Homo sapiens: one gene and its partners. The protein of the gene in region 2 interacts with the protein of the main gene of each other region in a pairwise test. Each region holds a gene or a part of one and is shown on either strand. Other genes may lie near its edges. The genes, in order: FBLN5, TOP3B, AXIN2 and CENPF.

The links.
Region 1: the proteins of TOP3B (region 2) and FBLN5 interact in a two-hybrid assay, tested with the Homo sapiens proteins (one study listed by BioGRID).
Region 3: the proteins of TOP3B (region 2) and AXIN2 interact in binary tests that used the Homo sapiens proteins (3 or more experiments, as listed by UniProt).
Region 4: the proteins of TOP3B (region 2) and CENPF interact in a two-hybrid assay, tested with the Homo sapiens proteins (one study listed by BioGRID).

The regions. Positions count from the first base shown.
Region 1 is NC_000014.9:91,868,911-91,875,804, forward strand, and holds the end of FBLN5 (fibulin-5 isoform 1 precursor), read right to left. Parts: intron 4,766-6,894; coding exon of another isoform or gene 4,587-4,765; intron 1,476-4,586; coding exon 1,314-1,475; 3' UTR 501-1,313; downstream 1-500. UniProt on the Homo sapiens protein: Essential for elastic fiber formation, is involved in the assembly of continuous elastin (ELN) polymer and promotes the interaction of microfibrils and ELN. Stabilizes and organizes elastic fibers in the skin, lung and vasculature.
Region 2 is NC_000022.11:21,972,320-21,980,429, reverse strand, and holds part of TOP3B (DNA topoisomerase 3-beta-1), read left to right. Parts: intron 1-4,242; exon of another isoform or gene 4,243-4,449; intron 4,450-4,622; 5' UTR 4,623-4,720; coding exon 4,721-4,790; intron 4,791-5,941; coding exon 5,942-6,073; intron 6,074-7,711; coding exon 7,712-7,818; intron 7,819-8,110. UniProt on the Homo sapiens protein: Releases the supercoiling and torsional tension of DNA introduced during the DNA replication and transcription by transiently cleaving and rejoining one strand of the DNA duplex.
Region 3 is NC_000017.11:65,529,570-65,537,679, forward strand, and holds part of AXIN2 (axin-2), read right to left. Parts: coding exon 7,755-8,110; intron 7,495-7,754; coding exon 7,300-7,494; intron 6,985-7,299; coding exon 6,751-6,984; intron 6,153-6,750; coding exon 6,057-6,152; intron 4,511-6,056; coding exon 4,343-4,510; intron 534-4,342; coding exon 407-533; 3' UTR 1-406. UniProt on the Homo sapiens protein: Inhibitor of the Wnt signaling pathway. Down-regulates beta-catenin. Probably facilitate the phosphorylation of beta-catenin and APC by GSK3B.
Region 4 is NC_000001.11:214,633,856-214,641,965, reverse strand, and holds part of CENPF (centromere protein F), read right to left. Parts: intron 4,101-8,110; coding exon 3,965-4,100; intron 2,046-3,964; coding exon 1-2,045. UniProt on the Homo sapiens protein: Required for kinetochore function and chromosome segregation in mitosis. Required for kinetochore localization of dynein, LIS1, NDE1 and NDEL1.

The DNA of each region.
Region 1 (6,894 bases), on a different chromosome or scaffold from region 2:
CCACCTCTCTTTCTAGGGTTTATAACAATACATTCTCAACTCTGGCTACATAGTCAAGTTTTCAAAAATCCTGATGGCCGGGCCCTACCTAAGCCCAATGACATCAGAGTGTCTGGGGGCATGTCCCGGGGAATCAATCTTTCCTCCAAAGTTCTACTGGTTATCCGTCTATGCAGCCAGGGTTGAAGGCCACTGGTTTAAAGTAACTTGAATACATTCCTGTTCTGCAGGAGCACCGGAAATAATCTACGTAAGAGAAGGATTGTTGGTTGTTTTCTAATCAGATGAAACAGGACTCAGGGATGATGCCTCCCCCTAACTTCCCCACGACCCCTATTTCTCTGCCCCACCGCCCCCCTCCCATCAATTTGCCAGAGTCACAGATAATGCCCTAGCTCTCTGGAGAGCTTTCTAAGCCAGCGCACAATAAACAGGTTTAAACAGAACTAGAACCCCAAAGGCTGACTCGTCTATGATGTCAAAATGAACCAAACACAAGCTCTCTTCAAATATTTAATCAGTTTGGAGACCTCTGCATTCCAATCCAATTGGGTAAAAATTCTAAAGAAAGCAAGATTAAGGGGTCCTCAAAGAAAACACTGGGCTAAAATGGAGAGGAGACTGGGTTTGGGAAGACAGAACATAGCATGTGTCTGAAGGCCTTTCGAAGGAATTCTACGACATATTTTTTAAAAATACTCAAAATGAACAAGACAGAATTAAACCGTTATACAAATTTAAGGACAACTGAAACTTCTTTTATGGTTGAAAATACCAGGCATGGTTTTGAAACACATTCTCTAAAAACCCTTCGATCCTGCTGTGGTTTGTTTACATAGCCTTCTCTGTGTACGCAAAAAGCAAACTAGCTACTCCCAGGGTTCCCCGCCAGCTCCCGGGTCTTTGCAAAGCAGTAACACAGTGAGAGAAGGAGTGGAAGAGGTGAAGAAGTGACAGCAAGCTGTTCACAGTCTTTGAACATAGACTCAGACCCCCGCAAACCTAATCTATTTTCTTTGAAAATAGTGGAAATAAACTGAAGGCCTTGAAAATTCACCAACAATCTTCTATCAGGGGAGCAATGATAATACTTTTTGATAACTGTGTCATAGGAACTGGGGGTGGCAAGTCCTGCAGGGTGACAGGTCTGCAATAGTACAGGTGAGAGTCAGGAAGTCGGGGCTGACTCTTCGGGGAAACGTTCAGCAGGAAATGCCTAACGTCTGTGTCGCTCTCATTCTCTCTGTTATTTCCTCTCTTCTCCTGTCCCTTGGTGCCAATGAGAGGCAGCGTCGGAGGCTCCAGCCCGAGGCTCAGAATGGGTACTGCGACACATATATCCGCAGTCGGATCACGGAGCTGCCTCTGAAGTTGATGACAGTGTTGACAGTGATCATTTCCAAGTCCAGCTGGATTTCCCGGGGCCCTTTGATGGGGCGTGTCATCACCAGGGTGGCACTGATGGGGCCCGTTTGCTATGGACAGAACCGGGGAACACCAGTGAGAAAAGGCCTGCATGGTGGCCCTGCAGCCCCACCTGGGCGCTCCCTTGCCTCCGTCAGTCAAACTGGCACCCCCTCGGTGCCTCAACTGTGCCATGCTCTTTCCCTGGCTTTGCCCACTCTCCACCTGGTTCTTTTCTGCAAACCCTTCAGGTCTCATCTGAAAGGTCACTTCCTAAGAGGAGCCTTCTCTGGTTCCCCAATCTAAGTCAGGTCCCCCTGCGACCTCTGACGCTGCAGCCTTTACTTTGTACAGGATGGAAAGCATTTATGACCATGTATGATTGTCCATACTGTCTACCTGATCCGTGTCTGATATCTAGGCTCCCACTAGGCTATGAGTTCTGTAAGAACAGGTACTGGGGTCAGGCTTTTCACCACTGAGTCCCCCTAGAAGCCAGCATGGTGCCTTGAACACAGAAGGTGTTCAGAAAACATATATTGAATGATGAACGAATCATTGATTGAAACTTCTGCATGGCTTAGGGCTGTCACTTCACCCCTCTGGGGCTCATCTCTCAAATGAGGGTTTGGCATTGAGTACATACACATGGACACAAAGAAGGGAAAAACAGGCACCAGGGCCTGCTTCAGGGTGGGAGGCAGGAGGAGGGAGGGGATTGAAAAACTACCTACTGGGTACTATGCTTATTACCTGGGTGATGACATCATATATACACCAAACTCCTACGACACAGTAATTTATCTATACAACCAACATGCACATGTACTCTTGAAAGTGGAATAAAAGTTTTAAAAAACGTTTTTGAGGAAAAATAAAATGAGGGTTTGGACCAGATCAGTAATTTAAAAAAAAAAAAAAAAAGGCATCAAAGGCTACTGGAACTTTTTTTGTTAAACTAACAATTCCAGGGGCCCATTCCAAGATTTTCTATGTCAGTATATTTTTAGGTGATGCCTGGGAAAGGTGGAATTTAAGAACCCCCCTCTAGGCACCCTAGAGTCATCTCCAGCTTCACCATTCTGTAACCTGATCACTGTGGTCCTAATAATTTCGCGTGAACTCTCTCCTCCACTGAGTCTTTTTCTAAAACTTTCAAGGAGGAAGGCAGAGAGGAATGACATCAACTGAGCACCCATCATGTGTGAGGCACTCTTCTAACCATGTTTATGTACATCTGCTTATTTAATCCTCATAAAATGGCCAGGCACCATGGCTCACAACTGTAATCCCAGCATTTGGGAGGCCGAGGTGGGCGGATCACTTGAGGCCAGGAGTTGGAGACCAGCCTGGCTGATATGGTGAAACCCCATCTCTACTAAAACTAGAAAAATTAGCAGGGCATGTTGGCAGGTGCCTGTAATCCCAGCTACTTGGGAGGCTGAGGCACAAGAATTGCTTGAACCTGGGGGGCAGAGGTTGCAGTGAATAGAGATCGCACCACTATACTCCACCCTGGACAACGGCGAGACTCCAGCTAAAAAAAAAAAAAAAAATTCTCATAAAACCCTGAAAGGCCTTGCCACTCAAAGTGTGGTCCCTGGACCAGCAGCATGGGCATCACCAGGGAGCTTCTTATAAATGCAGAATCTCAGGGCTAGGATCTACTGAGCCAGAATCTGTGGCTTAACACAATCCCCAGGGCTTTGTGTGCACATTAAGTATTGAGAAATATTGATCTAAAAGCACAGGACCCAGGTGGGGGGGCCCTGGCTGTCCTTGTCTAAGTGCTGTATGAAAGGTATGACTCATTACTTCCCCGTTTTATAAGTAAGCAAACTGAGGTCCCATGAGGTTAAATAATTGCTTAGGGTTACCCAGCTAGTCTTGGGCAGAACCAAGGGCTTCCATTCAGGTATTTCTGACCCCAAGCCCCAGGCTTTTTTCACTGCACAGCAGGTATCAGAAGAGGCTGATGTGTGTTTCACTTCTTCCTAGCACCCACCTAATGAGAGATGCTCGCGGTCAGTGCAAGGGACAGATATTGGCACTGTTAGAGGAAACAGTGTGAAGAAGAAAAGGGATGGGCTGGACAATCACTTCCCATACACTGCAGAGCCCAGCCCTGTGCCCAGAAGCTGCAAGCAACAGTCTCTGCAAAATAAAGGAACCTAGCTGGTTTAAAGCTACACTAGATGTTTTATCTGTCTCCATAAAAGGAGGGCGCCCCATAAAGTTCTGAACATCCCCAAGAGCCACCACAAGTAAGACAAGGGTGGGGCTGGCAGACAGGTGCAGGCCAGGCGCTGGGACCTCCCCTATCCATGAGGCTATCGGCAGCCTGACAGCCACACAATTTCCTCTTGGCACTGGTTCCTCCTGTTCCCGTCAGCATCCACGTTATTGGCACCTCCTCACGCAGATTTCTTGGACTTCCTTGTCAGCCCTTACGAAACCTGAGCCCTGGGCCAGGGCTTCAGAGGGTAAAGCCACACAAGGAAATGCCTGCAGCCTTTACATATACAAATATCTCACCAGCTTTCACTGCGTGAACAAAGACCAAGAGTTGAGAACCCTGAGCTAGGGACAGCCCTCCAGAGGGAGATCTGCAGAGCCCAAGGTCTGGAAGGGAGAAGGGGGCAAGTGCAAACTTCCAAGTTGTTCCTTTGGGCTCTCCTGGTAAATGTCTCCTGAGTACGAAAGAATCCTCAACTATCCCATTTGAAATCCTAGACTCTCCCATTTGGAAGTAACTGCAGAAGCTGGTGAGTCCGGCCTCCACCTGGGTCCACCCTACCCACAAGCACCTGGAAGAGCTCAAGTACCTGCCACAAGAGCTGAGGACAGCCACCTCCACATTCGGCTTTTAGGGCAGAGCCAGGGCATTAATGAAATAAACCCCTGAGAGCCCGTGGGCATTAGTAGGCTTGGTGGTGCGAAAAGATGAGGAGGAGGAGGATGGTGGCGACAGTGATGACGGTGGTGGTTATGATGCCAGGCATCTGGCTACAACCTTTCCTACACCTCTTAATTAATCTTCACAACCCTATGCTCTAAGTAGGTTAGGGATACTACATAAGGCCACCAAACTACTGCATGGTACTAGACTTTATGGCTCCAAAAATCATGCTTCTAACCACTACACTCTCTGATAAGGTCTCTGTACCTCTCCATTTACTCACCATCCCATGGGTCTTGACTTGACTTGAGAATCGCCACTTTGTGTTGTGTTTGCTAGGTTGTTTTCCCCCTCTCCGCTAAGGTGTGTGTGGGTTCCTCCAGGGCAGAGACCACATCCTGTTTGTTTCTCAACGCTCAGTGCCTGACTTGAAGCCTCATATGCAGTGGTGCTGAATGCACGCTGGTAACGGAAGAATGCACACGAATGACTGAACGCCAGTGGACTTGACCACGCTGGGAGTCGGCTGCCAACAGCCCACCAGCTGTGTGTCTTCTTGGCCCTGATCCCAAACACACTCAGGTTTATTCTAATCAACTTGTGGGATGGCATGGTCTGACCTGTGGCAAGCAGCCACGCTGTAGCAGGCCAGCTTCCATGGGCCCTGTCACTTGATCCACGTGTGTCATGGAGTAAGTGCACTTTGGCACAGTCTGAACCCCATGACCTTGCTCCTTCTTCTGGCCCTAATTATGACCCCCAAGCCACCTGGCCAAAGCCAATCATCAGTCCTCTTTCTAGGGCTCAGTGAGAGACAGGCAGCCAATAAGGCTTATGAATGGGCTTGTGTGTGTGTGTACACGTACGCATGTGGGCATAAGTGTGTGCATGTGTGCATGCAAGTGTGTGTGTGTGGTTTGCCTGCGGGGTGAGATGAAGCTCCTCCCATGTGGTTATAATCAAATCAATGAATCTCAGGGTGTGAGAGCCTGGATGGCCATCCAGCCCCACCTCCCACACGATGCTCCAGTCCCCTGGGTAGCATTCCCAAGCTCTCCATGGCCCAGCAGCTCCCAGCCTCCTTGCAGCAGTAGCAGCAACAGTAGCAGTGGCCACAACAGTATCTATACAATCATAACTGCTATTTCTGGAATACTTTCTATTGTAACTGGATGTTAGACTTTTCTTGTGATCTCCATTTCATCTGAGACCCCAAAGCTGGAAGAGTAGGTAAAGCATACCTCCCCATTCTGAAGAAAAGTATAACAGCACAGATTTTTGGTGCCAGGCTGCTTAGGTTCAAATCCTGCCCTGGTGCTTATTAGTTGTGAGACTAGTCGGGCAGGTTGCTTAGCTCTGTGCCTCAGTGCTCTCATCTGTAAAATCTGGACGATAAAACCATCCTATATCATAGGATTCTTGTGAAGATTAAAGGGTTACTGTATAGAAAGCACTTAGAATAGTGTCTGGCACATACAGGCACTATACACGGCTTGCTGCTGATGCTGTGTGTGGAGTTATTGGGGTTATACAGGACTTACAAAGCTGTGATCCAAAGCCAGATGTTTCCCTCATTCCATCACCCCCTCCAGCCTACATACATACTTTTTTGTTTGTTTGTTTTTGTTTTTAGAGACAGGGTCTCGCTCTGCCACCCAGGCTGGAGTGCAGTGGTGCAATCATAGCTCACTGCAGCCTTGAACTCCTGGATTCAAGTTATCTTCTCATCTCAGCCTCCAGAGTGGCTGTGGTTACAGGTCATGCCACCACACCTGGCTAATTTTTTAATCTTTTTTTGTAGAGACAGGGTCTCACTATGTTGCCCAGGCTGGACTTGAACTCCCGGGCTCCAGGGATCCTCCCACTTCAGCCTCCAGAGTAGCTGGGATTACAGGCATGAGCCCCTGTGCCCAACTCTACATATATTTTATTAAACACACTTACTAGCCTCCATCTCAATCAAGAGGGGTTTTCAAAAAAAGAAAAACTGTTTAGAGATGCAGGCCCCTGAAGTTCAAGGATGCAGAAAGTGGTACCAGACTGTCTCCAGGAGAAGTCTGGAGATGTGAGCCCTGAGCTGCCCCACACCATAGAGAGGAACGGGGAATGCAAGGAGCTGATGTTGACATCCTGAAAGGCCCTTGTGTAAGGTCTGCTGCCAGGATGCAGTGATACCCTCCACCTCACTACCACCACGGCACATCTGTATGAGACATAGCCCCAGAATTAGGGGCTGAGAGGTTTGGAGTAGCAGGTGACCAACCACAGGCCCTACTGCCCATATCAGGGACTGGTCAGTGTGAAGTCCTCAGGCAAATCTCCAAAAGACCCACAAAAGCACCCTGTGAGAGCAACAGCTTTGGGGGCTCTGCTCCTGAGGGAATACCAATGCCTGGTTACAATGGCTACAATCGGGGAGGAGCCTCACTCTTCCAGCCTTACCCTTTCTACCACCTGCTCCTCCCCTGCCAGCCCTGGAGGAGCCAGGGCCAGCACTACCATTACCGGGAGGGTGACAAGAGGACAGGGCAGAGGCCAACCACACCCCTTGCCTGCTCTGAACTAGGAGACAGGGAGAAACTTCACAGTGG
Region 2 (8,110 bases):
GCATGATGAGCAGCAGAAGCCCCTTTAGTGAGGGAGTTCCTTTGGCATCCTTTCTGAACAATGCCCTTTACAACCCTCCTTTATTTTTCTGGTTTTATTGTAAAGTCCCTTGTCTTAGTTCTTGTCCCTCAGTCACCTGTGTCCAGGCGCTAAATGTAAAAGGTGCAAAAGGGAATGTGGTGAGGAGGCACCCCCAGCCCTGACCTCCAGGCCCTAACACCCACTCCAGGTGATTGCTTGGACTGTTTGTTTTGCGTTCCATCCAGACATATCGCCTCTTCATAATCAAGTGCACACGTGTGCACACATATGTGTGATCACAGATGGCAGTGCTCTCTACACACCGTTACATGCCCAGCTTTCTTAGCATGATTTATTTCAGTGATCTGATCCACGTTAGTATGTACCAAGCAGATGCTTTCCTTTGTAATGCTGCCAGGTGCTCTACTGTAGAGAATGCCATGCTTTTTTTTTTTTTTTTTTTTTTTGGAGATGGAGTCTCACTCTGTCGCCCAGGCTGGAGTGCAGTGGCGCAATCTCGGCTCACTGCAAGCTCCGCTTCCCGGGTTCACACCATTCTCCTGCCTCAGCCTCCCGAGTAGCTGGGACTACAGGCGCCTGCCACCATGCCCAGCTAATTTTTAGTATTTTTAGTAGAGACGGGGTTTCACCACGTTAGTCAGGATGGTCTTGATCTCCTGACCTCGTGATCTGCCCACCTTGGCCTCCCAAAGTGCTGGGATTACAGGCGTGAGCCACCGCGCCCGGCCAGAGAATGCCATGCTTTTATTTAACCACCTCCCTGTTGACAGACACCAGCTTGTTTCTAACCTTTTATCATGATTGATAATGCTGCAGAGAACTCCCCAGTGATGTGGTTCATCACAGGCACCACCGTGCCCAGCCTGAGGCCACTCCAGCGCTGCCCTGTCCTACCTCCTGGGGACTCAGAGTCCACATGGACAGTCTTGTCAGGGCCCACCACTGACTCCTGTGAGTCTCCCCAGGTGACTTCACTCTCTACCTGTCTCACAGCCCTTGCCCTCCCTGGGTCAGCATGCCACCACCCAGGCCCCTCTGTAATTCCTGTTTGAGCCTCCCACCCTCTGGGAGTTGCTTCTTTGACTCCCACTTCCTGCTCTTGTGCCTCACTTCCTGGACCCCACAGAGCACACCCTCTGTGGACCCTCCCCAACCCTCACCTCCCTCTTCACCCAACTCAGAGTCAGGTTCTGTCCTTGTAATCTCTCCCCTCGAACCCTGACCCACTCCCTCTCCCTCCTACTCACCTGGACTCTCCCATCTAACTAAATCCAGTGCTTCCTCTGCTGTGGGCCTGCCCGCAGCATCACCACCTGTCCTCCCTCAGTGGACAGCCGTACCATGCCTCCTCCTCCACCAAGAGAAGTGCAGCCTTGTGGCAGCTCTGCATCGCCTGGATGCTGACCGGCTGCCTCTCTTGCCCCTCACCCTCCCAAGGCCATCACTGCAGCAGTTCCTTCCCCTCCGGCACGCAGCTTCTCTTTTCCTTCTCGCCAGAGCAGTCCCATCAGCGGAGAACATGCTGGCACAGCCACCATCCTGAAACAAGAGGGGACAGTGCACCAGCCTTCTCCCATCTCCCAGGTTTTGTTGAGCTCACCCCATGCAGCTTTCATCTGTCACTCACCACATGGCCCCATCAGGATTACCCAGGGCTCTGTTTGCCAGACCCTACAGTCAGGTCTCAGCTGCCATCTCGCCTGGCCTGTCAGTGTCCCCCACATGGTGATAACTGCCCTGAAGTGCTCTTTCCTGTGGCTTTCAGGACCTTACCCCTCCTGACTCACCCTGCTAGCTCCTCATCTCCCGACCCCCAGCCTGGGCTCCTTCCACATTGCTGCCACCTCCTCCAGGCCACCCAGGCTGTCCAATGGGCAGGTCCCGTTTAACACACCTGAAGTCCCACATCAGACTGCCAGTCCCTTCCTGTCATGCCTAAGCCAAAGCCATGGGTTGTTCCTTTTGCTTTTTTGTAAAGATGAGGTCTCATTGTGTTAATCAGGCTCTTCTCAAACTCCTGGCCTCAAGTGGTCCTCTTGCCTTCGCCTCCCAAAGCACTAGGATTATAGGTGTGAGCCCATGGCAGGTGTGAGCCCATGCCCAGCTCTGCCTCAGGTCATTCTTGACTCACCTTCCCCTCCCCCTCCCATGTCCCGCCATCCCAGGTCTGCCTGGATTCTGACTTCCCTCGCATCCTCCACCACTGCTACCCAGGGCCCATTCATCCTCTTCTATGTGGCAGCCAGAGAGGTCCCTTTAACACTTGAAGTCAGATTATCCCACACCTATGCAAACCCTCTGCTGCCTCCCAGCACCCCTAGAGCAGACCCACATTCTACACCCCTGCTCCCTCCCTCAGCCCCATGAGCCCCCCTGCCCAGCCATATCCTCCCCAAGGACCTCACCTTCCCTGCTCCTTCTGCCTGGACTCTTCTCCCAGGTGTCACCCAGCCCTGCCCTGTCCCTCCCCTGCTCCCATACTACAGCATGAGTTCTGGGAGGGCAGGACCTGGTGTTGCTTTGTGCTGTATTCCCTGCATCCTGGACTAGGCCAAGCATGCAGTAGGTACTCAATAAATAACTGGACTATTAAGTTCATTCCAAGGAGTGGAATTGCTGGGATGTGCACTCGGACTTTGAGAGGGATCCCTGAATTGCTGCACATAGAGGTTGTTCCCATTTAACTTCCCCATGCCCTCATCTGCTGTGTGTGCAACGACTTTGAGTCTCTCCCTATGTGATAAGCACAAGCTCATTGTAGTTCTGAGTTTCTTCTGCGAGTGTTGTTGGACATGATGTGATACCACAAAGGTACTTACGTGGTGGTTTTCCCTTTTTTTTTTTTTTTTTTTTTTGTTTGAGATGGAGTCTCACTCTGTTGTACAAGCTGGAGTGCAATAGCATGATCTCGGCTCACTGCAACCTCCACTTCCTGAGTTCGAGCGATTCTCATGCCTCAGCCTCCCAAGCAGCTGGGATTATAGGCACCCACCACCACACCCAGCTAATTTTTGTATTTTTATTAGAGATGGGGTTTTGCCATGTTGGCCAGGCTGGTCTTGAACTCCTGACCTCAAGTGGTCCACCCACCTCAGCCTCCCAAAGTGCTGGGATACAGGCGTGAGCCACTGTGCCCATCTAGGTGGTAGTTTTTCTTTATGCTGAGATTATTTTATTTTGCTTTTACTTTTTTTGAGACAGGGTCTTGCTGTCACCTAGGCTGGAGTGAAGTGGCTGTTCTATCCACAGGTGCAGTCATGGCACACAACAGCCTTGAATTCCTGGCCTCAAGCAAGCGATCCTCTTGCCTCAGCCTCCTGAGTGGCTGACACTATAGGCATGTGCTACCACACCTGGCTTGTGAGATTTATTTTAAAAGCACATGTTTTTCCTAATATTTTCTGGTTTCATTGTTTCTACTCAAACCTTTGCTAGATCTGGAATCGGTTTTAGTGGGATTTAGGAAGCAGGAGTCTAACTTTATTTTTTTTCACAGCAGATTTCCCAGTTGTCTCAATACGAGTCTTTTTTTTCTTTTTTAATACGGTGCTATGTTTATAAACATCAGTGCTACATTTATAATGACTGAAAAAACAAAAAGGGTTCATGTGGTTTTCTTTTACTTGGCTAGCAGGTATTGAATGTCATGTGTCAGGCACAGAAAGCTGTTGCAAAGACCAACAGTGATTCAGACACAAAGCCCATCGTGTCCTATTTTGGGGGTGAAGTAGTCGCTGATGATGGCATGATGTGAGTGGGTTGGAATGGAGACCTAGCCCAAGAGCTGTGGGCACAGGAGGGCTGACTTACCCTGCCAGTGGTGTTGGGAGACTTGAGCTGGGCCTGTGGGCCATCCAGCTGCATCCTCCAGGCCTGGCGGAGCTTTCTCTCAGGCAGGGAAGCGCAGGCACAGAGGCTTCAAGTGCGTGTTTGCTTCGATGATGATATTTGATTTAATTTGGCCAGAGCATGACCTGCAAAGCAAAAGGTGGAGTGGAATAGGTGGGAGATAGATGTGACAGAGTCCTGATGTCTGCTTGGGGCTGGACCGACTAGCCAGAGGGTCTCAGGCCCATCATGGATCAGAAGGACCTGGGGGGCCCAGCCTGGGCATCTGCATTTTGTAAAGTGTCCTGGGGCGTCCAAGTGCTTTGCTGAGCGGGAGGTGCTGCTCTCGGCCACGATAGTTCCTCTTTCCAGGTGAGTCCACCTGTAGGTGGAAGAGCCAGTCCAGAGAGGAGGGCCAGGCATCCACCTGGCCTGACCCATCACTCCAGATCCCCAGGCCCCAGCATCTTCCTAGCATGGATTTAGGAATAAAATTGACCTGAGATCACTGGGGCCACTTCACCTTCCCCCAAATGGAGCCACATTCCCAGGATCATCTCAGCCACTTCAGCTGACCTGGTAGTTTTTTCTTGTTTTTAATCTCAGATGTCTTCAAGTTTCCCTAATTCCCTAATTTTTCTTCTTCTTGCCTCAGGTTGGTCTTGTTTTTTCTTTGTTAAAGTGATTTTCCTTGTAGTGGTGTAGGTTCTATTGACAGCATTGCTATCCTGAGTGTCTTTTCTTCTCTTTAGGAGTCAGCATTGGTAATAGTGCTGTGCTGCGGAAGAGTGGAGTCTAAACTTTTTCATTGCCAGTGCCCCGAAACTGGAGTGTGAAGGACCGAGACAAAATGAAGACTGTGCTCATGGTTGCTGAAAAGCCGTCCTTGGCACAGTCAATTGCCAAAATCCTCTCTAGAGGTAGGAGAGACCAGCCCTGCTTTGGTCTGTAAGCACGGTCGTTTATGTGTTACAGGACATTTTTTCCTAATGTGATTCCACCCTGGCTGGGGTAGATTTGGTTCGGGTCGGCAGGTGGTAATGAAGCATCTCAGTATGTCACAGTGGGGTGCATTTGCTTCCACTCCTGGCAATGTGCCAAAGCTGGGGTTCCCATAAGGCACAAGGCACAATTTACAATGAAATTGAAGGACAGTCATTATCCATATGCTGGGCCTGGTGGGGCTATTAGGTACAGGTAGTAGAAACCAGCCCTGGAAGGAAGGAGACGCAGCCAGGACTACACCCCAGTCAAGGTCTGATGAGGCTATGCCCCAGGCATTGTCACCCCTGGATACTCCCACTGTCCTGTGGACCTCACGTCACTCCAGAGTAGCCAATGGACTGAGCTATGGCCACAGGCACTACTGAGACACCAGGGAGCTCGAGAGGGAATGTCTGCCACTCACCCCCAACTCTGGCCACTGGGGTGGTTGGTAGGGTGCTGTTTCCCCCTATCTTTGAATTCCCTCCAAATAGGAAGAGTTTTAGATGCTGGGTACCCAGAAATGACAGGCACCTACCTGGCCTCCCCTTGGTCCAGCAGTTGAGAGGGGAAGAGACCCTCGTTCAGCTGAGAAGGCATGGTCCGCAGGGGACGGTGCCCCAAAAGTGGTGCCCGGTGCCCAGAAGCTGAGAAAGTACAGCTGAGTATGGTCAGTGGAGAGGGTGAGAATTCGATAATTAGAAGGTCCCTGGTAACCGAGAGTAGATCTGGAGTCTGTTTTAGTAAACGATGAATAACGTTTCAATGAAGTGAGGCAAAAATGGAATTGAAGAGTGAAAACATAAATACAGAGAAAGAGCCCACCCCTGCCTGCTCCTGGCTCCCGGCAGCCTGGGGCTCTGCATCGAGAGTGCTCTGTGCTAGGTTGTTGGCAGATGCTGTTTTCCCTGAGCGCCGTCCCACCTCTCAGTGCCCAACTACCCGCACCAGTCTGCGGAATGTCGTCACTCACCACTCTGGGGAAGGAGGACTCTGGCCCTCTGGGAGGTGGCATCCGGGCTGGGGTCTCCACAGGGTCTTCAGCTCAGCTGAAGCAGCCAGTCACTTTGTGCTTCCTCATCCCCAGGGAGCCTGTCCTCACACAAAGGGCTGAACGGGGCCTGCTCAGTCCACGAGTACACTGGGACCTTTGCTGGCCAGCCAGTGCGCTTCAAGATGACGTCTGTCTGTGGTCACGTGATGACCCTGGATTTCCTGGGTAAGCCCCTCTACCCTCCATCCTACTGAAGGGAGTTCTGCATGGCACTGGCCAGGGTCCAGTTGAAGCCAGGAGATGCCTCTAGGCAGGGAAGTTTGTCCCAACTCCATGAGTCATAAGGCCAGCAGATCATGAAGTAGCAATGAGAGGGTCCCTGGTGCGGTGCCCAGAACCCAGGCTCTGGAACTCAGCCCTGGGTCCCCATCATAGCGGCACCCCTTAGTCGCTGCATTCCCTGTGTGCCTTCCTATGTAGACAAAGTGGCAGCACCTATCTTAGGAAGGGCTTGACCTGTGCAGGCATTTAAGAGAAGGCTGCTGCTGTTGCCAAGTTGACCGTCATCTGTCGGTCATTTGGTGGCTGTCGTTGTCATTCCTATATTGTTACTGTTATCAATTACCTTGGAAGCGCCAGTATTAGTGACCTGCTGGGTGTAGGTTTGGGGCCATGTGGTTGGCAAGAGTCTGATCCAGGCTTTTCCCCCTGCTCTGCCGGCTCACTGGCTGGGGATGTGGGCAATGACGGCCTCTGAGTTTACACTTCTCATAGTGAAATGGGTCTCACAGCAATGCCATCTGCTTCCCAAGGCTAAGGATTCAGTGTGACAGTGAGGGCAAAGCACTCAGCACAGGGCCCGACACACAGCAAAGCCTCAGCCCTTGTTCTTGCTGCTCATTGATGACAGTGATGACAATGATGGTGACTGAGTTGTGTGGCTGAGCATTTGGACCCCAAGTTTTATCTCCAACTGGCAGGTGGGGAGCCGGGATTTGAATTTGGCTCTGTCTGACCCCATTCTCCCAGGATGCAAGAAATGGGGCCTGGGGAGGATCGCTTGAGCCCAGGAGTTCAAGACTAGTCTGGACAACATAGTGAGACCCCTGTCTCTACAAAAAAAAAAAAAAACAAAATTCTTTTTAAATCAGCTGGCATGGTGGTGCGCACCTGTAGTCTTGGGAGGCTGAGGTGGGAAGATGGACTGAGGCTGGGAGGTCGAGACTGCAGTTAGCCGTGATCGTATCACTGTACTTCATCCTGGGTGATAGAGCGAGACCCCTGTCTCAGAAAAAAAAAGAAATGGGGCCTAAAAGAAAGCCAGACAGCTGAGCATGCAAGAACCGGGTCTCTGTAGATGAGTAGGTGAATGTGCTGGGCATGAGGCTCAAAAAGATGGTCCTTTAACAGGAACGACTGCACACATGTGTGCCCCCACAGAGTGCTGGGTGGAAGGACAAAGTTCCAGAAACTCAGGTTGGAAGTGTCAATGAAGGCACCATTGTGGGGTCCAGTGCTCAGGCAAAGAGACCCAGCCCAGGAATGGTGCTCCCAGCCACAGGGAAAGTCCCGGAAGTGAGGCCAGAGTGGCAGCCCCCCGAGAGCTTGCTTGGCTCCTGTGGTTGGCCGGGGTGTGGTGGGTCCGCTCAGCAGCCGAGCAGAAAGGAGGCTGGATGGGAGGGGGTTACCAAAGGCCTGAACCCACATCCTGGCTCTGCCTCTGATCATCAGGATGACCCTGGGCAAATTGTTCTCCAAGCTTTCCCCTCCTCATTTGTGGGATGAGGCCAACATCCTCCTGGGGTTATGATGGTCTCGGAGGCTGAGCTCCTGTGACTCAATGTCACTGTGACTGGTTTGTAGGAAAATACAACAAATGGGACAAAGTGGACCCCGCAGAACTGTTCAGCCAAGCTCCCACGGAGAAGAAAGAAGCTAACCCCAAGCTGAACATGGTGAAGTTCCTGCAGGTGCGTGGGGCTGGCCTGGGCATGAGCACACCGGGGCTCCCCACCCTCCACAGCTGCCATGTCTTTGCCCACCCTTGCTTGAGTCCTAATCCCCCTTGGACAGGGGGGCCTTTGCTAGCTTTTTCTGTGAGTGCCCCCTGCTGGCCCACGAGGCACCTGCAGGCACCCCCAACACACAAGGCAGTTGCCATTGCCAACCCTCAGTCCTGGAGAGCAGGCCTTCTGCTTTTAAAATAGCTTGTTTGGTCGGGGGGTTTTTCTCCTTAATTTTAAAACAAATGCATACAGATTA
Region 3 (8,110 bases), on a different chromosome or scaffold from region 2:
TAAACTGGGGATGGGGGAAATCAACTGTTCTATAAATATCAGTAAGGATTCCTGTTCAGGTAAGCTATACACAGTTTCTCTTAGTTTATGGATTTCAGATCCCTAGGAAGTCATATATTATGTATGGCAGTCTCTCAAATACAGGCAGCATCTTCAATAGCCAAGAGTGGTCATGTTTTTAATAAATAGTTCAGGCTTTTCTTATCTCAGTCAGTACCCAGCTCATGAATCATGAAAATCAACCTCCCCCCGCCCTCCCGAAGGCCCACTGGCCGATTCTTCCTTAGACTTTGTCTTCTTCATTGGTTTAATTTTCCTTCAAAATGTTTTGTCGCAGTTGCTCACAGCCAAGACAGTTCACAAGAGCTTCGGGCTCCAACAGTTCACCAAAGCCAGACCCCAGGGCTCAATCGATCCGCTCCACTTTGCCCAGAATCCGGCCTTCATACATCGGGAGCACCGTCTCATCCTCCCAGATCTCCTCAAACACCGCTCCACAGGCAAACTCATCGCTTGCTTTTTTGAAGTAATACCTTAAAAGGAAAACCAAAAAAGCTTCTTGGTAAACTGCATTTTCCACATTGTTGAAAAGAAAAGCATACCAACATGGAGGACTGAGGTATCCTAGGAATTTGCTATGGCAGGTGTGCCTGTACACTGTTGCGCACATCTGCTTTAAGACGGCAGCTGGGACTGGCCACACCACAAGAAGCAGGTGGGCCGAGATGATGAAGGCCAGGCACCCACTGAGCAGCAGCCTGGGCTGGGCCTGCCACCTGCAATCTTCAACCCAGCACCTCTGCTGTCTCCTGACACGTATACACTGTGAAAAGCAGAGCTGCTTTCCCCCCGCCAACCTTTTTCAGCAGTGGGGTGGGGGAGGGAAGGGAAGGACAAATGCCTGCAGTTCCTTTGCAGCAGGAGCCAAGCAGGTCCTTCAAAGAGACTCCAGACTATCTCCAGGTTCAGCCATCCTGAACCCATCACACCTGGAGAGCCGGAACCTGCCGAAGTCTGTAAAAGGCTGACTTCCAGATGGTTTAGCAGTCCAAAGGCCTCTCGGCCTTCCCATCCTCCAGGTCCCAAGTGCAACACTCCTGGATGGCCCTGGCACAGCCACACAGGAGGCAAGCCAGCCCAGCGCAGCTTCCCAGGGCCGAACAGACGGCACTGGCCCCATGATGCCCTCCCCTCTTCTCCCCATTTCCAGGCCTCTTCTCCCATCCCATCCCTCCAGGGTCAAACACCAAAGGCCCTTCTATTATGCCCGTTGATTAAAGGCTCCTTTCATCCCTCCCCAGCGTTCTTTCTTCTGAGGCTGTTTAATTGTACAGATGCAAATGCCTGGCCTCTCAGGAGTGCCACATTCGGAAACAACTGCTGTCCTCTTGGGCCAGGCCCACCCCTAAACCCCTTCCGAGGAAATTAAGCAAGGGCCTCTTCCTTCCCTGTCCCCAGCCAAGGGAGACCCCTCAGAGGGATTAAACTTGCCCCTGCAAGCTGTCATTTCCAGCCCATAAAGGCCACTCACAGAGGGAAGGTCACAGTCCCCTGGGGGGATGGGAGAACCTTTCAAGCATTTAATTGTGTCTCAGGGTTATGGTTGGGCTTTGTCTTTTCCCTTTAAAAAAAAAAAAATTAACTCCCCTTGGTTAGAGCTCAATTTTTTCCCTCTTTAATAAAGGCAAGCCAAATACTTTCGTAGGAGATAAGGCTAAATACAGTGAACAGCTGGGTTTAGTCAAGGTTCTTTGTTTTTAGCATTCCTGACCCAGCTAATGCAGTGGGGTGAACAACGGCATGGCTCTGACTAGGCAGCACTGAAGACACGTCATGTCAAGGGGTCAAAATTCTCGGGGGAGCGTGAGAGGAGACAGTGAGAAAATGGGGAGGGGCTCTGTGCACAGGAGACTCAGGACAGTGGGGGGAAAAGTCACTTCTCCACATAAGAGGCTCAAATCCCAACGCCACCCTCCGTCAGACCCCTTTGGCCCCAGCTCCGACCCCTCCAGGGTTTACCAAGTTGGGCTTTCACAGCATGTCTGAGCAAACACGCAGCGACCTTTTACATAATTGCAACCTCCTCCAGAGAGGAGAGAGGCCACATTCTCTCAGCCCCACCCCCAGGACTTCAAACACACTGCACTGCCCTCATTTTCTCCAAGAAACAGGCTTTTCCACTGCAACATGCTTCATGTGGCAAACTTTGCTTTCTTCTGACATCTGGCACCAACAGCGTCTGGCGCGTCTGAAGGGACTGTTTGCTTTTTGAACCCCTGCCATGTTGAGATTACTCAACGCATCCCAGGTCCCCCCCACCTCCCACCCCTGCTCCACGGCCCCAACCTCACTGGGTCTTTTTTATTTTTTTGAAGGGGGGATGTATTTGTACAAATTGAGATGTTGAAGCACCAGCCCTGCTGGGAGGGTGAGGCGTGACACCCTGTGTCCCTGTCCTACCCCAGGAGGACACTGAGTCTAGCTCAGGCCCTGCAGAGATAAGGCAGCTGGGAGGGCCTTCCCACAGCCTGATCCACTCAGGAAAGAACTGGAGAGGATCGGAGAGTTGACCATTTGTGCAAGTCTTTGTGCATTAAAGGGGAGGCCAGGGCTTCAAAGCCAGGCTTATTAACTGTGCCTCAGGGAGAAAAAAAAAAAATCAGAGCCAGATGTGGCCACAGCAGCTGAAGGAGGCACTTTCCCCACAAGCCTATGCCAGCGCCACATGGCTCTTCTCCAAGGTCACCTGCAGTTCCACTCGAAGTCCAGCCGAGACAAAGCCAAGATCAAAATGAATCCCCAGAGGGACACACTTGTGTCATTAGTTTCACCTTGTGTCTTTTCAAGATAAAAGCAGCAGCAGCAGCAGCCAGGCCTGTTCCCCCACCCCTTTGATACCTTTTCACAATTGTCTCTGCCCAGGTATAAAAGGGACTATCCAGACCCAGCAACACGCCCTGCTGGCCAGTTACCTCCAGGGGCTCAGTCCAACCTCCATCCCCTCCCCACTCCAAAGAGAATCACTTTGAGCCCCCGCCCAAACTAACTCCCAGATGAAGGTGGCTGGTAAAACTATACAAGGCCTGCTCTAGAGGGGAGGGTGTCTCAGAGCCCTGCAGGTGGACTCATCCCCGTCCAGGAGCCCATGCCCACCTGGCAGGTTACCAAGTGCTATTCAGAGTTTTCCACTCACACCCCTGGCCCTGGTGGCGGCAACGGGTTCACACCTGGGAATAGACTGTGGTCCTGGCACAGGGACAACAGCACACAGCTGAGGAGTTGGAACTCTGTCTTGGGTGTAGACCCCAGAGTGAGCACCTCCTTAAACTAGGGTGCCCCTGTCTCACCCTTGTCCCAGCCTGGAGCCCTAAACCTGGGAAACCTGGGACAGAACTGGAGCAGAATCCACACATTCTCTTGGGCTGCAGGCCATGGAGAGGGGCAAGGGAGGACTCCAGATGAACTGAGGCAGAGTCATCACCTGCTCCTTACGAGGGAAATGATCAAGAGAAGGAATGGCCTAGGGCTGGCCCTCATCCTCCTCAGCTCTTGAACCCTCTCAAGGGCCCTAAAAAGTCAGCATGGACCTTCTCAAGGGCACCTCCGTCCACTCTGCAGACAAGGTAAGGAGACCAGGAAGTTCCCTTCCTGAAGCCCCTGCAGGGGAGAAGGCAGCGGGGCCCAGGCCTGGACAGGAGGAGTAGACTGCCCTATTCACCCTGTGCCCACCCGCAGGTCCAGCCCCTTCTTTGTTATGGACAAAGGCGCATCTCTGCTTCTAATGGCCCATAAAATCCAGGGAGGCTGTTCAGGTGGAAAGGCAGGGTAAGAAAAACACGGGGGACTTTTCCTAGGCATGGTTCCTGACTATTTGGAGCCTTCAATGTGGGGGTCTCTCCTAAACTCAAGCCAGTAGGGCGGCGCTTCCAGACCCTCCCTCCTAATCAGTGTGCCTGTCCCTCTTTTTGCTCCCTGCTCCCCACTCGCCCACAAGCCCCTCAATTGCAGGTAAAGCCTCTGCAGTGTGGCCTGAGCCCCACTCTCCTGTCGGTGCAAGCAGCTGCTCCTTTTCTCTCCTCAGTCTGGTTCACCTGGTGGAAAGAGCCTGGCCAGGTCCCCCAGAGAACCCTCCACGCAGCCTCCCTCTTGCGGCTGCTGCTTCGTTATTGCTGCTAGCGGTGAGGGGAGAGAAGAAATGAGAAGGGAGCCTCCCCCAGCGCCTGCTGAGCCCCCTCCCACCCTGCCCCACCTAGGTCTGCTCAGCCAGGGGAGCTGCTCCAGGCTCTGGCTCTTGGTTCTGAGCAAACAAACTGAGAGCAGAAAAAAGCCACAGGACTCTTACCTATAATTTCCCTTTTTGCTGAGCTGCTCTTTAAAGTGGCCCAGGGTCAAGCTCTGAGCCTTCAGCATCCTCCGGTATGGAATTTCTTCCCCACAGAAAAAGTAAGTGACAACCAACTCACTGGCCTGGAGCGCGTGGACACCTGCCAGTTTCTTTGGCTCTTTGTGACTGAAAATAAGATGGAATGGAACAAGTTTAGCATTTTAAAGCAGACACACATCTAAAGCAAACACACACGTGCGCACATGTGCATAAGTGACAGGGTATCCAAACACTAGGGCTGCAATTGTAAACCCAAAGTGGGGGCTGGGGCAGAGCCCCACATCCCAGAGTCAGGCAGCTCTGGGGGACACACAGTCCAACCCCACATGTGCTGCATGCAGCATGCAGAAAAGGATGATTTCCTTTTGGTTGTACAAATTGGTATCATTTCCCCCACCGCCACCAAATGAAAGTATACGGCGGCCTCTTTCAGGCTGGCATAAATGGGGTGCTTCCTCAAGAAGATGAGAGAAGAGAAATTATCACAGAGATGCCGGGTCTCACCTGGATTGGAGAGTGCTAAAGAGACAAACCCAGAGCAGGACACCTTTGGGATGGCATGATCTCAGAATGCCTAAAGCCCACCCCTTATTCCAGCAGAATGAGAACAACTAATGGGGGTTATCACACAGTCATGTCCATTTCCCCATTTCTTCTGAGATTTTGTAGAATGGCTTGAAAAAAAGGCTGCTAGGCCGGGCGTGGTGGCTCACGCCTGTAATCCCAGCACTTTGGGAGGCCGAGGTGGGCGGATCACTTGAGGTCAGGAGTTTGAGACCAGCTTGGCCAACATGGCGAAACCCTGTCTCTACTAACAATACAAAAAAGGAGCTGGGTGTGGTGGTGGGCGCCTGCAATCCCAGCTACTCGGGAGGCTGAGGCAGGAGAACTGCCTGAACCCAGGAGGCGGAGGCTGCAGTGGGCCAAGATTAAGCCACTGCACTCCAGCCTGGGCAACAGGGCGAGACTCTGTCTCAAAAAGAAAAAAAAAAGTGGCTGGCCCAGACCCAGAGAGCTGGTACACTTAGGGTCAACCAATTGAAACAATGAAAGGGTCCAGGGCAGTGGCCTATTGAGGACTTCAAACATTGCTCATTGCTCAGGATGAAGACACTAAGAAAGAAAACTTGATACAGACCATTTTAGATCTCTTTAGCAGATTTCTTTTTAATTGCACCATCCAGTAATTAAACGAGCAGGCTCCTCAACCTACTTTGAAAGAGACTAAATTTACAAAAAGAATCACTGCCCAATTTGGGGGAAGATATTCTGTCTTCTCCAAACAAAAACACAAGGATGGTCCCCTCCACCTCTGCCACAGTGGAGAATGATCTTTCTGCTCAGGGGTGACAAATGTTTCCAGTACTACTAAATTGCAAGTTGAATGGGGGCAACTTTTCCAGCTGAATTTGAGGTCCCTTCTACACTTCTGCTAATGGCTTCATGTCCCAGCTTTTGATTTGTGTATGACCAGAAAAACTTTTGCTATGATGCATTTGTCGGCAGGACATGGATGGCAACATCTACGTTTACTGTTCCTCATCACTAGCGCTAAAATCAAAGTGATTTTAAAAACCAAAAAAAGTTTCATGAAAATGAAACTCCAGATAGCGAATATTCTGAAACATAAAGCACTCGGCAGATCTCAGTAATGTCAGGTAAAGACACTCACTCTTCTGGAGCCAGGCTTGGATTGGAGAAGGGTGTGGCTCCCGTCTGAACAGTGGCCGAATGATTCCTGTCCCTCTGCTGACTGGCCACACAGCACCTGAGGACACAGCCAGGGCGAGGGATTTAGAGGTACACTGTTGTCCCCAGAGCAATTGAAAAGCAGACAGAAAATTACTATTTGGCCTCCTGAAGAGACACGAACCCGACTTCCATCCTTACGGAGACCCAACCAAGACCCTGGGTTAACAGTGGCTGAAGAGGCCAGGAAGACGTCTTGGAACAGCCATTCTAAGCCCCCCTGGGAGCCCAGGATGGGACATTCTCAGCCCCAGCAAAGGGCTGAGGACTCTTGATCCTCCATCTCACAGCTTCTTATATACTCAACTAACCAGCCTTAAACAATCAAGACATTTGTAAGGAATGGGATTTGTAAGCAATTGCTGAAATTCATTCTCCCAATTCTAGGCATGACTTGCCTCACAGATCCTGGCTTAACTCTAGTAGAATGAACATAACTGAAGGGAACAATTTCTAGAAGCTGGAAAGCAGCAGCTTACTCATCCATAAGTAATTCTTCTTCTCATGGGAGGGTTTGAGACCCAGGCAGAAAGAGAGGCCCTCCCCATTAGCCACAGACCAGGTCTCCACCCAAACCCAATCCCTGCCTCAACCTAGGACCCTTCACTTCCACTCACCGCTGCTTTGGGGGCTTCGACACCTCAGCTAGCCTGCGACAGGCCTCCTCCAGCTGAGCCAGCGTGTTGGGTGGGGTCAGGGGAGGCATCGCAGGGTCCTGGGTGAACAGGTGGGCACGGGGGGTGGTGCGGGGGTGCCCGCTGTTGCCCCCCCACAGATGGTGCCGGCTGGCTCGTTCGCCTGGAGACGAGCGGGCAGACTCCAAGGGGTAGGCCTTTTTTGTGCTTTGGGCACTAAACAAGGAATGAGCAGAGAGAAAACAGAAGGAAAGAAACTGGGTTAGAAGAACTGGAAAATGTGACTTCAATAGAAACTTGTCTATTCTGCTCAGAGAGAGAGTTAAAAAAAAAACTACCATAACATGAACAGGGGTCAGTGCCAAAACATGACATTTTTGTGGTCTGCTCAGTCCAACGTTTAATATTAAGATGGCAGGAGCAAATAGTCACATTTGTATTCCGCGGACTGCAAAAACAGCCATTCCCACAATACCTCCGTACTGAGTGCCCATGACCCTCGCGGCCGCGGCGGCGGCAAGCGGTGTTTACCTATGGGGCTTGGGCTTGCTCTGCCGCTCACTCTCCAGCATCCACTGCCAGACATCCTGCGACCTGTCTCCTTCCTCCCGGGGAAGCTGCAGGGCCCCAGCTCCGCCGGGGGCCCCTCCTTCCCTGGCGGGCAGGGCCAGGCCCGGCTCCGTGCCTTTCCCATTGCGTTTGGGCAAGGTACTGCCTCTGCTGCCGCTGTGGGGAACCAAGAACCACACCCAACCCAGAGACCCGGTTAAATCTCCGGGACTCCTAGAATCAGACAATTCAGCAAGTCGGGGGGCTGGTGACACGAAAGACCCATGCACCTGCTCCCCGCACCCTCACCCGGCCGTGCACTCTGCCGCCCTCTTAGAAACTAAATGCCTGTAATGCGGCTCCCACCTCACACCTGCCCATGGACCTGGCTGGGAGACAAGCCCCACACGGGACACTGCGGTCCGCCCGGCACTTACCCAAACTGCTCGCTGGGCATGGTTTCCGGAGCCTTGGAGTGGCTTTTGCATTTCGAGTAGCAGTAATACTCGCTGCCCCCAGGGCAGAAGCAGTGCACCCGCTGCGTGGCCTCCGCCTCGATCTCCTCCTTGGTCTTGGGGACGGCATGGTGGTGGATGTAGTGGTGGTGGACATGCTTCGTCGTCTGCTTGGTCACAAAGCCTTTGCCCCCGAGGAGGGGGCAGGCGCCCGGCGAGGCGGCCGCGGGAGGCAGCTTGCCACCGGGCGGGAGCAGGGAGTGGTACTGCGAATGGTGGTGGTGGTGGTGGTCCGGGGAGCGGGAGCGGGGGCTATAGCGGCCTACGCCTGGAGACTG
Region 4 (8,110 bases), on a different chromosome or scaffold from region 2:
CTGCGCATTATAACTATCTAGAGAAATTTCTTTAACTTCAAGATCCATCTGAGGTTTAAAATTACATTGATTTCTCTCACTCTCTCTTTCTTTCACAGAGTTCCTAATTGGTTCTGATTCTAGATTTTGACATTCATGTTTAGTCTTCATTACCTTCATCAGCTGTTCATTCTCTTGTAATAAGTCATTAACTTCCTTTTGCATTTTGTTTTGTTCTTCCTTTAAAGTCATGATTTCTTGCTTTAAACCACCAGCCTCGCTCTTAGAATTGTTTTGGTTATCTGTCATCTCAGATCTCAGAGCTTGCTGCACTGTCTCCAACTCTAGCATCAGATTCTGATTTCTTTCTTCAGCAAATGCTAATTTTGTTAAGAATTCTTGGTGTTCCTTTGCAAATGCTTCCTTTAGCTGTTCCAACTCATTTTTCCTATTTTCACAAAGACTAGTGCATTCATTTAGCAAGCATTCTAATTTAGAATTCTTTTCCTGTGCTGCTTTGTATTTTTGACTAAGATCCTCATATGCATTTCCGGTTTCTTCACATCTTTGTAGTAAAATAAGTTTTTCTTGCTTGTACTGATCAGATAACTCTGAAATGCTTTTCTCCCTTTCATCTATATAGTTTGCAAAACTCTCACTTTTCTGGATTAAGTTCATCTTCTCTTGATTTAAGGATGCATTAATTTCCTTAAGAGTCCCATTCTCTTGGGTCAGCTCTTCAATTTCCCTTTTATTTAGAGAAATGATGGAACTCATTTCTTTCTTCTCCAAGCTTAGGGTTTCGGATAAAAGTTGTAGCTCCTTTAGAGAGTCTTCAAGTAGATGGTTGCTCTTTTTTAATTCTTGAATCTCTGCCTGCTCAGTTTCTACCTTATCATTTAAAAGTTGCAGCTCTTTTTCCTTGTTCTCAAGGGCACTTAAGGTTTCAGCAACAACATTCTGGTGAGCAGAAGTGTCTTCCTGTAACTTACTAATGCGCTGACTTGTTTCAGCCACAAAACTTTGATGCATCTGTTCTGCTTTCATGAGATTTTCTTCTATTTCTCCTTTGATTTGCACCAACTCTTCACACTGCTTTTGCAGGTCTGAGTTCATCTGTTTTTGAGACTCTAATGAAAATTCAAGTGAATCAACTCTATTTTGTAGGATGGCAGAATTTTTCGGACTTTGGTCTGCTTCTAAACGACATTCACTCCTCTCTGAAGGCATGCTTCCTTGTTCTCCAATTATATTTGCAAAGGAATGATGCATGGCAGGCTGCTGATCAAAAGCCAAAAGACTTCTCTGATGATCTTCATTTGTCACCAGAGAAGCATCTTTGGATTTTAGCAGATCCCTGAGGCTCTCATATTCGGCATGCAAGTCTTGGTAACACCGGTCTTTGTCCATTATTTCATTTGACAGTAACTGAAGCTTGTGTTCTAGATCTTCAACTTGCCCAGTAAGCTGAGAAGTCTTCAAACACATATTTTCTATTTCCTTCTGATGTTTCTGATCTGAGAACTCAGCTTTCTGCTGTAGCTCCATATAAGCTAGTTTCTGGGTCTCTACCTCCACTGACTTACTGTCTAACACGTTGTGAAGGTTTCTGATCTCGACACTTAGGTTTTCTCTGTCCATCTCCAGCGTTCTTACTCTCTCGTTGTATTCATGACTTTTTATTTGCTGTGTCTTCAGACAAGTTTCCAAGTGATTAATTTTACTCTGCAAGTTTTCCTTTTCTGATTCCATCTGAGTTAAAAGTTTTTCGTTTTCACTTTTCCAACAAGAAAACAGAGTTTTCTCTTCTTTCAATTCTTCATATTCTTTCTTTTTTAACTCTAAAGCACTCAGCAAGGCTTTGGACTCTTTCTCTGTCTTGCTTAACTTATCATTAAGTTGTTCAATGTGATGTTCTCTTTTCTTCAAAAGGTCTTGAGAACAATCTCGCTGCTTTTCCAGATCAGCCACAGCAAGCTTCAGTTTTTCTAAAGTCAAGGAGTTTTCTTGCTGATTTATTTTTTCTTGAAGATCTCTTAACATGGTTTCCTGAGAGGTATTCTTCGCTATTTAAAAATAAATAAAAGTCGTCAATGTTTGTAATAAATGTTTATTCTACAGAAACGCTAACCCCTCCCCCCGCCCCCTGGCAAAATCCAAACAAACTAACAACTACTCAAGCCCTGGAAAAACTGGCATTATTGCCTGGGTACCTCCTAGAAAGTGGATCACTTGGTAATTATCTTATATAAAAATGAGAAAAATGGTTATCTTAAGGAGAGTAACACATTTGTTCATCTTCTTTCTAGCAGCTTAAGAACATGTTATTGAATAAAATACCAAGGGATGATTTTCCTAAGCACTGTTTCTTTTCTTTGTATGTGTTTACATATGTGTATATTTTTACCATCTTTTCAAATATTTATTCCAAGAGAGAAAACTGGGACAAGAACAGCACTGAAATGGGAACATCCCACTTTATTGTAGAGTAATTCTGATGTCTCAGAAAAGTAAATAAGTACTCCACCATTTTAGCTAAAACATCCACAGGATTAGACTTAAGTAGAAAAGAGTAAATGATGCCATATATCAGTAATTCTCAAGGCCTATATGTGAATATTCCTGAGGAACATTATCACCCCCATCCCAGCCCCTCATAGTAAGGGTGGCAGTGTCTATGAATGTCACAGTCATTTGGAAGCTTCTTCAAACTCCGTTACCCCCTGTCTTCTGCCTAATGACTCATCTATACATACTGGCCCCTCCTGGTTGGGAATAACCACGATGTTTTCATTAAACAGTGATAAGAAGGCTTCATGTTGCTCAAGTATGTTGGGGGAGATTGAAAGTTGAGAACCTCCACAGTAGATGATAAAGGTAACATGTATTACAATCTCAGACATCATATCAAGTGGAAAGCAGTACGAACTTCTAAGCTGTCAATCTCAATCTACCTACTTATAGTTAAGGGCTTATGTAGACAGCACCACAAGGGCTTCATCCCACTTTGCTGTGAGCAACTCAAACAATCACCTGGGTGATCAACACTGAAAAATGCCCCAACTGTTCCTTTTCTTACAGTTTCCCTTCAAGAAAGCTGAAAACTGACATTTCTATCTGCTGCTGTGGAAAAACTAAAAGCTGTCTTGGGAAGATTGGGTTTTTGTTTTGTTTTATTTTTTTGAGATGGAGTCTCGCTCTGTCGCCCTGGCTGGAGTGCAGTGGCGCAATCTCCGCCTCCTGGGTTCATGCCATTCTCCTGCCTCAGCCTCCAGAGTAGCTGGGACTACAGGCACCCGCCACCACACCAAGATTGGGGTTTTAAAAAAATAGTCACAGAGAAGTGTGACACACATTCCACAGGACAGAGTTCAAAGAAATTCTAGATATGCAAACACCCCAGGTGAGAAAATAAAGGGTATGTAGAAGACATCCGGCACAAACATACAAATATGAAACCAAGAGTGGATTCATTTGATGTGTAGAGCAGAATTCTTTGGCTTTAAAATAAGAAAATAAAATCATTCAGTCAAGTAAGTCATCAAAAAACAATGGTCATTAGGAGCTTGGAAAACATGCATTTAATATAGGGTTTTTCCATTATAAGGGAAATGGTAATGAGTCAGGAGATGAGCTGTCTGGATGTAACTAACAAGCACACTAGAGACACAGAGAATAGCACTCGGGGGTGAGAGACAGCACTGACAATTTAGCTTTGTGTGGAAAATATTTACCCTTCTGATTTCAAAGTGCTGAGCATCAGGCGTTTGGGACTCAATATGTTCCAATTAAAAAAAGTCCCACTCTCACTCTGGAAACTAAAAACTAGAAGAGGGAAAACTCTTCCACATCAACTGCGCACATCTTTTTGAGGGAATATATGAAAAAAAATCCAAAGAGTTTCTCTAATATGTTAATGCCATCCATCCCCTCTCACGGGAATAGCAGCTTAGAAAGGTAACTCTAAAATACTAAGTTTACTTACCTTTCATTTCTTCTGCAAAATTCTGGCTCTGATTTAAACACTGTTTGATGTTCTTGAGTTCTGCCTCCAGGTGGCAGACTTCTCTGGCCTTTTGCTCAGAGTGACTCTTAAGGAGGTTGTTTTCCTTCTTCATTTCCTAAAACACACATTTTAATTGGTTATAGCCAAAACGAATGCTCAAGTAAGTTATGACTTCTGCCTTAATAAAGGTCCCTAGCAGAACTGTTTGTGTATCTCACTAGGGAAAGAATCACAATTTCCCCGTTTGAGTACCTAATGAAGTCAGACATTCTTACTTAAATAATGTTATGAACAGAAGACAACAGCATCAAACCCAAATCTGAAGATAATTTTTTCTTTCAAGAAGTTTCATTGAACTTTCTCATTGTTCATACGCCTATTAAAGAGTAAGCTCAAAAGGAAAATCCTATCTACAAGATCCTCAAGACAAAACCTCCAAGTTCCTATCACACCTGAATGGCCAAATATACCTTTGCAAACATTTGATTTGTTAATAAACCAAAAAAAAAAAAAAATCTCAGCACATATGTTTACTTTTCATTGCAAAACCATCTTAAGGTTTGCTGTTACAGGAATGATTCTGTGGGAAAAATTACCTTCAATAAATGCTTATCAAGAAAACCAACAATATTCAAGATGCTGGAATGTGCATTACAAAAAATGCAAATATAAATAAGACAGAGTCTCTGCCCTTGGGGCAGACATCCTCCAGTGGGGGAAGATGTGATACTAATCATTTAATACACAATAGGATATGCTAAATACTAAAGAGACATTGAGTGTGCTATGGGAAATCAGAGGGCTGGAACACAGAGGAAGAATTAATTCTAGCTTCTGAGCTTTCACAGTGAAAACAGGTTCTTTGGGCATCTGATTGAAGAGACATCCACGCAACAGCATGCAATAAAGTAACACAGGTACATGTGTAGTTCCATTCTACTACTAGGGAGGCCTATATGTTCTGAATCTTAAAAGCAAGCAATATTTACATGCCAAAGAAAAACTTTTTTGCTTATTAACCACATAAGACTCACATAACAAACAAGTATCTCAACCTATACTGTATGCCACCCTTTGGACCACAGGGAATTGGCATAAATCATTACAAGCTAAGAGAACCAAGCACCTCACATCCTCAAGCGGGGAAAAATCATATAAAGCTAACTTTTTTCTAAACTGCATTTCAAACCTACCAAAATTACCCCTTTGTGAAGTAGAGGAAAAATTCTGAATCTTAAAGAAACAATTAAGACCCATCCTCCAAAACCCTACTGCACTGTTAGAAAACAGATGGCCGTGGCAATACTGTGTTGGAAGGCTGCCTTCAATTATCAGTCTGGTTACTACCAGCAGATGGGTACCGATGTAGCAAAGCCAAATTCAAGAAGAGGGAGAATCTGGCTAGTAGAAAGTACTTGAAAACTTGCTGGCAGCTGCTCCGTTCATGTATATGCGTTCATTTCATCATTAAAATAAGACAGAACCTGTTGTAGTTATTATACTCCCATCTACCGTGTCCTGATCCTGCTTCCCTGCTGCTAAACTGACACTCTATCGAATTAAGATATCAATCAGAACTAAAGGGCAGCTCCAACCGATCTCAAGATTGATAGGCTAACATTCACACTAGTCAGTGTTAAACTTTGCAAAGCACGATCATTAAGGTGCAACAATGTTATTGATTTAAATTAGCATCATTAAATTATGGAACGTATAATGACTGGTTTGTTCTTCAGACTCAGAATAATCACCCCTCAAATGAGATCACAGATGTGAAAGGACAAACATCTTAAAGCACTTTGACAGGGGCAATGTAGCATTATTAGTAGTATTTCCTCCCAAAATTTAACAGTAGCCAGATCTCTGTAATCAATGCTAAGATCAGCTGAATGAGGTCAACATAGAAGAGGAACTAGAATGTAATTACCTGGGTCGACTTAGCATTTTTATTTTGCAAATGAAAAAATATTTTCTTACTCTAAAAAAAAAATTTTTTAATCAAATCAAATGACACCTGCATCTGGAGGCTTGACAAGAAAGCTGGAAAGACACTGTGCAAAACTAGGTGCGTCCCAATAGGAAGGAAGGAAAAAAGAAGAGAGAGAGGGCACCAGGGAAAGATGGGGAATTTTATGTTTATGTGTTTGTTGGTCTCGATCCATGTCTGTCCATAACTGGAGACATTTAAATGAATAGTAAGCTCAATGGAAAGATTAACATGACTTTCTCTATTCTGGCATTAGCTCCGTAAATATTTGTGTCTAACGAAGAAATGTTCAGCCAATCCTGGGACCCAGCAGGCTTATAATGCTATGGCTATGACCAACCCAAGAATTTTAAAAGGCCAGAATTTAGAAAATGAACATCTGAAAATGGATGTGCAAGCTGCCATCCATCAGCAATTAGTTTTCCACGAGGCTACAGCCACTTAAGACTTGATTGGGTATCTCATTATCAACAATGAGTTAAGCATACAAAGATACATTTTCCTAGGCATCTCCTGCATCCTCACATGATTTGCAAAATTGGGTACTATGCTGGAAAAGCACAACAAAAATCCCTATAACCACAAGCCAGCATTAGAGCTTAGCAAGCAATTCCACCCAGATCAACTTCGCTTTAGGAGCAGCAAGGGAGGCATCATTTCCTAGGGCCAGACAAAACAAATTTCAGCTACTGTGTGGCATTTCATGATCCCATCCATGAATATAGCTTAATACGTCCCCTGCTGGGCGAAGCCTATATACTTGGATAAGGGATGGATGCAAAGAATGTGTTTTTCCCTTTCCTCCTCATCTCTCTTGCTTGCCAGAGCCAGCTCCTTAGAGGACCTAGTGTAATACAGATCCCTATGCTTGGAAAGGTCCCCAGGCAAGTGTTCCCTCATCTTGACTGTCAAACGATGGTATTTTATTGCCTAACCCCAATGCTATGGGGCTGGCACTGGATAGTGGACGAGCAGCTTATCTAAACCCTCCATTCACTTTGATACTAAATGTTAACTTTACCCTTGATTGGGCCATTAAATCACATTTCCAGTACTGATAATTTCTCATTGTGAGCAGCATGTTTACTAAACACAGACAAGGAAAATTTCAGTACAACTGTCACATTATTTCGGCATCCAAAACCTATAAGCGTCCTAAATTTGTTAGTGCTTACATATAATTAGACACAGAAAGATACCCAGAGTGACACAGTAATAGAACAGGCAAAATTATAAATATGAGAAATCTCAAGTGCACTGTCCCCTGATCACACTTTCTGTGCCTGTAGGTGACAGCAAACAATGCTAACATCAAAAGGTCATGGCAGTGATGAAGACCAAGGCAATGGGCAGGTGTTGGACTGCAATAACTGACTGAGCACTTATGTGCTGGGCACTGGGCTAAGCACTTTACATACAATATTTAACTTAACCAAGAATACAGCCTTGAAAAGGCAGGAGAATGATTTGTCCCTATATGCAGATGAGGAAAGTCAGACTGAGAAAGGGTAAGCCACTGTCTAAAGGTCACATTGTGGTAGGTGGCAGAAAAGCAACACAATCTCAGATCTCACTCACTCTAAAGCCACTACCATTTTCCCACTAAGTTACACCACCACTCTAACTGGGTTCATCAGTTATCTGGTCCCAATCCCAATGCAAAACACAAGAGCCAGCCAAACTCTTTGAAATCTTGCTATCACCCTCAAAAGATGACACATACATAAACATAACCATAAATTAAGACAAATATTAACTTCATCCCCAGGCCCGGTGCTAGACACTTTCACACAGATGCCCTCATTTGACACAGACATCAATGATATACCAGTGAAATGTGATGCATGCACCTCAGTACAGGCTGGGATTAACTGAGGACAGCGCTACAGCTCACGGACCAGACCTCGTGGGGATGAACAAGTCTTCAGAAACACCTGCAAGACAATGTCCAGCCCACTACTGCGACTTGGCCAAGCAAGCAGTTTTTAAAGTGTTTGGACTCTCTTAACCAGATGATTGCTTTTACAAAATGTTTCCACCAGGCAGCCAGTGGAGTCGCGGGAGAGTTCCTGGCTGAAAGGGAAGCTCACAGAGGGAAGAGTTCGATGCCAGTCTGCCTGTGGAAATGTTAGCAGAAG